2 separate regions of the Homo sapiens genome follow, and region 1 is linked to region 2. A link means that fine-mapping ties the variant in region 2 to the expression of a gene that starts in the linked region. Tissue or cell type: putamen. Region 2 holds a variant in brackets; the other region holds the start of a gene. All regions are shown on one strand. Distances are between the middles of the regions.

Region 1 (2,640 bases), 28 kb before region 2:
AGAAGCCGGGGTATTTCTCCTCCTCTGTCTGTGCAGAATCTCTGACAGTGGCTATCTCCAGCTGTGGCCAGACAGGCCTTGTGAGGGTCCAGCTTTGACAAGGTGACCATAGCTCCTTGGCTCCAGTAACATCTGCTCTTCCTGCATCAAGGACCTGGGGACTGTTCCTACTGTTGCTGATCTCAAGGTTACTTCACTGAGCCCTGTATGGCTTCTTAGCCTCTTTGGCTTCAAGTCCCTGCGTTAAATTCCCCGTGTTTCAAATACTCAGAGATGTTTGGCTGTGCGGAGACCCTGACTCTTACACTGCACCTGTTCAGGCCAGAGCCACAGACCTCTGAGTGCTCCAGCCCTGCCGCATCTCATCCACCCCCAGCTCTGCCAGGAGCATGGGCCCAAAGACAGAAACATGATCCCCCAGGACAGTCCAAAGAGACCTGCAGAGGACGGATGTGTGCGTTGGGGCCATGAAGATGGAGTAGGAGCTCACTGGACAGAGAAGATGGGGAAGGACACTCCAGGGAGAAGCAAACGCTGAGGTCCACTTGAGAAAAATGCCTGGGTGGTTTTGGTGCTGTGAGATTCTAGGGTAGGTGAGACAGTGTGTGTGTGTTTGTCTGTGTGGGTGGTTTTGGTGCCATGAGATTCTGGGGTAGGTAAGACAGCGTGTGTGCGTCTGTATGTGTGTGGGGGGGTGGGGCGGGGTTGGGTCTGAATCTCCAGCGGGGGCAGCGGAACAAAGGGCTGGATGCCCATCCCAGGAGGTAGATTCATCAGTGCTCCCTATGCGAGAGTGGAAGTGGGGAGCCCCAGTGGGTCCTGGGCTGCAGGAGAATCCGCTGCCCCAGGAGCAGAGACTGGGAAGAAGCCCACAGTAAGGGCAAAGGGTGGACTGCGGAGACTGCTCCGTCCTCCCTCCCCACCCCTACGCCAGGTTTCACTTCTCCCTGAGAGTCCTGGGGCAACACCCCCTGTTCTTTCCCTCGCACCCCCATTTTTAAAATGTTACGTGGGAGCTTTCGGGGACGGGCTGCGGGCATCCGTTTCCCTAGCCCAGTGGGAGGTGGAACCGAAGCCCAGGAGTCCAGGCCTCTGGCCCTGCGCCTCCCTGGCTAAAGAGCGCCCTGTGGGGAGGAAGCAGGGCCCCAGGCGGAACCGGGAAAACACACCGGGGCTTTAAACAGACCGGGCCACTCCCATCGAATTTGGAAAGCGGTTAAAAGAGGTCGTGCCGCATTCTGCGCCGCGTCCCTCTTCCTTCAGTCCCGCCGAGTGTCCCCGACCAGAGGTGACCTCCTAGAAGGGGAGGTCCCCAAACTCGAGGCCCTGCGTGTAGGGAAGGGGAGCGCCCGCCCCTTCCCTGCCGCCGCGAGCGCCCCGGGAGGGGACCGGGGCTGCCGTCCCTCCGCCTCTTCCCCCGCGGGGCGTAGCGATGGCCCGGGCCAGGGCCGGGGCGCTGCTGGCGCTTTGGGTGCTCGGGGCCGCCGCGCATCCGCAGTGCCTGGACTTCAGGCCGCCCTTCCGGCCGACGCAGCCGCTGCGCCTCTGCGCGCAGTACTCGGACTTCGGCTGCTGCGATGAGGGGCGCGACGCCGAGCTGACCCGCCGCTTCTGGGCCCTGGCGAGCCGCGTGGACGCCGCCGAGTGGGCCGCGTGCGCCGGCTACGCGAGGGACCTGCTGTGCCAGGTGAGCGGGCGCGCGGCCACCGGGCGGGGCGGGGCGCGGGAGGCCGAGTCCTGGAGCAGAGATCGGAACCCCGCGGGGGCGAGGGCCAAGAGTGGGCGGCGGACTCGGGAACTCTAAGCCCCAACAGGGAGTCATTTGGCACGGGGCGGGGAGACCGCGCATCCCAGGACGACTCTTGGCTTTGCCATTCATTAGTTTTGTGACTTGGGCCTTCTCGGGGCCTCAGTTTCCCCTCCTGAAGCAGGAAGGACGGACGGACGGACAGATGATGTCATCATTTCCTCAGAGGTTGGGGGCTCTTCTGCCCCAGTCCCCTGGAGTCGACCCCTCAGCGTCCCACCCCGAGCAGCTGCACCCTTGTCGGGGTACCAAGGTGGAGAGGCATCTGTCCCGGTCAGTGCTCCTTTGTGTTGTCCCCGGGGCAGTGAAAGCAGGGGGCCCTGGCGTGGGCGTGGTCAACGTGTGGCCCGGGTTTGTTGAGGGGGTTGGGGCCACTGTCCCCCACGAGCGTCTCACCCCCATCCTGATGCCCTTGCCACTTCCGCCACCACCTCTGTGGGTGCTGTGCCCTCTCCTGGGGATGGCGCCCTGGCCTGCAGAAGCTCTCTCAAGACTGAGCGACAGCTCTTTGTTGAAGCCCCTGGGCCCCCCATCTTCCCTCTGAGGGTGGAGCCCCTGCTTCTGTGCACACCTGGTGGTGCCACCGCTATTTGTTTTCCTCTTGTGGGAGTCTGAGGCCCCAGGGCCTGACCACACCCAAGTGGGCAAATGTTGCCTGGCTGAATGCAGAAATGGAGCAGGACGGGCAGCCCCAAGGCATTCCTGCCTCAGCATCTGGGCAGTGAGAGGCCTGGGGTGGAGAGGCCCCAGGGGCCAGGGCCGTGTCCCAGCCTTCGGCCAGCAGGGGCAGGTGGTGTGGGGAAGGGCAAGAAGGCTGACTTGGAGTTGGAGTT
Region 2 (2,831 bases):
CACCCTGAGGACAGAGTCCATGCTCTGGATTAGAAATGTCCTGGGAAAGAGTAAGCCTCCAGCCCTGGTGCTATTCCAGCAGAGGCTGAGCGTGCAGCCGGTAGGCTGTTATAGGGGATTTATGCCCTGGAGCTCTTAGAATCCTGGGGGCATGGAGTGGGCAGGGAAGCTGCAGGCCACACAGTAGGTGCATGGTGAATGGCCGCCTGTTACTATCGTTGCTGTTCATACCTGCCTCACTGTAGAGAAAAGGCACCCTCAGGGTGGGCTCCCAGGGTGAGACTCATAACCTCCTGTGTGTCGTTGGCAGGCGGGCACCACCTGGCAAATGTCAGATCCAGCCTGCTCAGGTGAAGATCAGAAGCCGTCTCATCCCCTTTGTGCCCAAAGAAAGTAAGTGCCTGCCAGTGGGACACTGAGGGTTGGGGGAGAGATCCCGCAGCCCACAACGGCTGCCTTTCCAGCCAGACTCGGGTCTTACCAGCTGGACCTAGATGCCCCTCTTCAGCCCCTGTGCCTAGCACTGTGCCTGGCACACATTAGACATGGTGGTAAGGTGGATGGGACTTTAACTAAACTGGGTCTTGCTTGATTGGTCACAATTCCTTAAACCAAGAGAGAAATAGCTGGTGCCAGGCAAGGTACTCTGTGAGTTCTTGGGAGGGACAGAGAAAGAGGATGTATCTGTGTGTAAGCAAGGGAGACCGGAAGAGTTGTTTGTGGGAGGGGCTGGCATATGGGCTGGGCCTTCATAGATTGTTGACAAGCCTGATGAGGAGAGACGACAGAGCAGGGCCACAAATGACTGCCCATGGGGCCTGGGACTGGGGGAAGGGGATGCCCCAGGCTGGGGCTGTTCCCCTGGGCCCAAGTTAGGTGGGAACAAAGACCCTGTGTTGCCAGGTCTTCCAATTCTTCAGAGAAGCAGAAAATCCCCCCATCCACTCATTCACCACGGACACGTGCCCTGCCCTGGGGATACAGCACACGGCGAGACACTGCAGTCCTCGCCTTCTCAGCCTGTTAGGTACAACCTCCCAATTCAAAGTGTTGGCGACTAGTTCAGAATTTTAAAAACCACTCCGCGAGC[C/T]AAGGAAAATATTTCAGCAGGCCAAGTGGGCTCAGCAGGCCACCCATTGGCAGACTGGGTGTGTATGGGGGTGGGGAGGGCAAGAAGAGAGGGAGGCTAGGCACCTGGGCTGAAGAGGTACCCGGGTAGAGGGGGAAGGGTCTGAGCTCAGTGATTTTGGAAGTGAGTTCTGGCCACAGTTGGTTTCAGGGCTTGGTGAGTTTTTCATTTACTCATTCAGCAGTTTCTGGCACTTTTGTTAGTTACTGGCTCCATGCTGGATGCCAGAGCCACAGTGAGAAGTCAGACTAGGCCCTGTTCTGGCTGGGACGGACAGAGATGTCATTTACTGTCCAAGGCCTTGTGATCGAAGTGTGTGCCAGGTACCGTGAGGACCCACCCAGAACAGTGGAGACTGGGGTTGGGGGTAGGGGTTCCTGGAGTCTGAAAAGAAGAGGAAGGGTGCACCAATAGGGGGTTGCACTGAGGGGGGTGGCAGCTAGGGGGATGGCACTGAGTGGGTATGGCACTGAGGGGGGTACACCTGGAGGGGGTGCACTGAGGGGGATGGCATGGAGGGGGGGTGCACTGAGGGGGGTGGCACAGAGGGGGTGGTGCACTGAGGGGGGTGCACCTGGAGGGGTTGCACTGAGGGGGGTGGAATGGAGGGGGGTGCACTGAGGGGGTGGCACGGAGGGGGTGGTGCATTAAGGGGGGTGGCATGGAGGGGGGGTGCACTGAGGGGGGCGGCATGGAGGGGGGGTGCACAGAGTTGGGGGATGCACCCAGGCAGGTTGCACGGGGGGGTGCACCTGGGGGAGTGCACTGAGGGGGGCTGGCACCAAGAGGGAGGTTCACTCAGGAGGGTGCACCGAGGGGGGTGGCAGTGCAGGCAGAGGGAACAGCAAGAGCCACAGTGGGAGAGGTGAGGCAGCCTGAGGAGCAGGAGGTGGGGGCCAGGGGCCAGGGTGCAGGGACAGGGAGCGCCTTGCCCATGTCATGGTGCTCTGGGCCCTGGCCTGTGCTTGGCCTTGTGCTGAGAGGCCCTTTCTCAGCTCTCTCTCAGTGGTTTTCAAAGTGGGACTGGCTGAAGTGGGGCGGGATTAAAGAGGTTTGGCCTGGTGGCCCCAGGATCCTCCCCATAGTAATTGAACAGTCTTGGGCTGTGACGCATGGCAGTGCCCAGTGCCTGGCACTGCACCTGTGTGGAGTAGAGCTGGGCACAGCAAAGTGTAGATTGAGGTCTATCCCTGTGGCTGACCTGGGCCAAGCGTGTCCCCACATTCTGCAGAGACAAAGGAAATCACCTGCCTCAGCTCCCTAGCACCGACTGCACCCAGGCTCTGTGGTGGGGTATAGGGGCTCTGCCTTGTTCCCCAGACACAACCAGAGTTCCCCCATCGTACCCGCTGTGACAACCCGCTGGTGCCAACCTTGGGAACCAGGAGGAAAGAGATTCACCCTGACCCCAGGGATCCCTGTGTGTATCCCGTTCCCAACCTGCTGGCCACTGGCCACCACAGACCCGCAGCAGTTTTTACCCATCTGTGGGCCTCAGCTTCCTCACCCTCACAACCAAGGCCTGGAAGATGAAACGGTGACTTTCTCTTAGAAGCCTTCCCAGACACTCCTTCCTTTCATTGCCTTCCAGAGTTATGAAGTGCCAGGAGCTGGCTCCCCCACCAACCTAGGGACTCCTGGGAAGGTGGGGCTTGGGGTAGGGAGACGCAGCAACAGCAGACTGGCACAAAGCAGTTGATAG

Which allele goes with the higher level. Alleles are on the strand shown, and positions count from the first base shown. SD is a standard deviation of normalised expression in the study named.
For the expression in putamen of the gene that starts at base 1,354 in region 1, allele C in region 2 goes with a lower level than allele T (small effect, 0.20 SD a copy in GTEx).

Evidence for each region. PIP is the estimated chance that this variant, and not a neighbour inherited with it, causes the effect.
Region 1: HHIPL1 starts here. The variant in region 2 is fine-mapped to the expression of HHIPL1 in putamen (GTEx, PIP 0.96).

What each region holds. Positions count from the first base shown.
Region 1 is chr14:99,643,776-99,646,415 of GRCh38, forward strand. It overlaps HHIPL1 (HHIP like 1), which reads left to right and starts at 1,354. Exons shown (of 9, transcript NM_001127258.3): 1 at 1,354-1,687. The coding sequence starts at 1,433.
Region 2 is chr14:99,672,007-99,674,837 of GRCh38, forward strand. It overlaps HHIPL1 (HHIP like 1), which reads left to right. Exons shown (of 9, transcript NM_001127258.3): 8 at 311-393. Among named protein-coding and RNA genes, the nearest start is that of CYP46A1, 11 kb to the right of the region's middle. RefSeq lists an enhancer at 1-355. The variant C/T (reference allele first, on the strand shown) is at 1,091.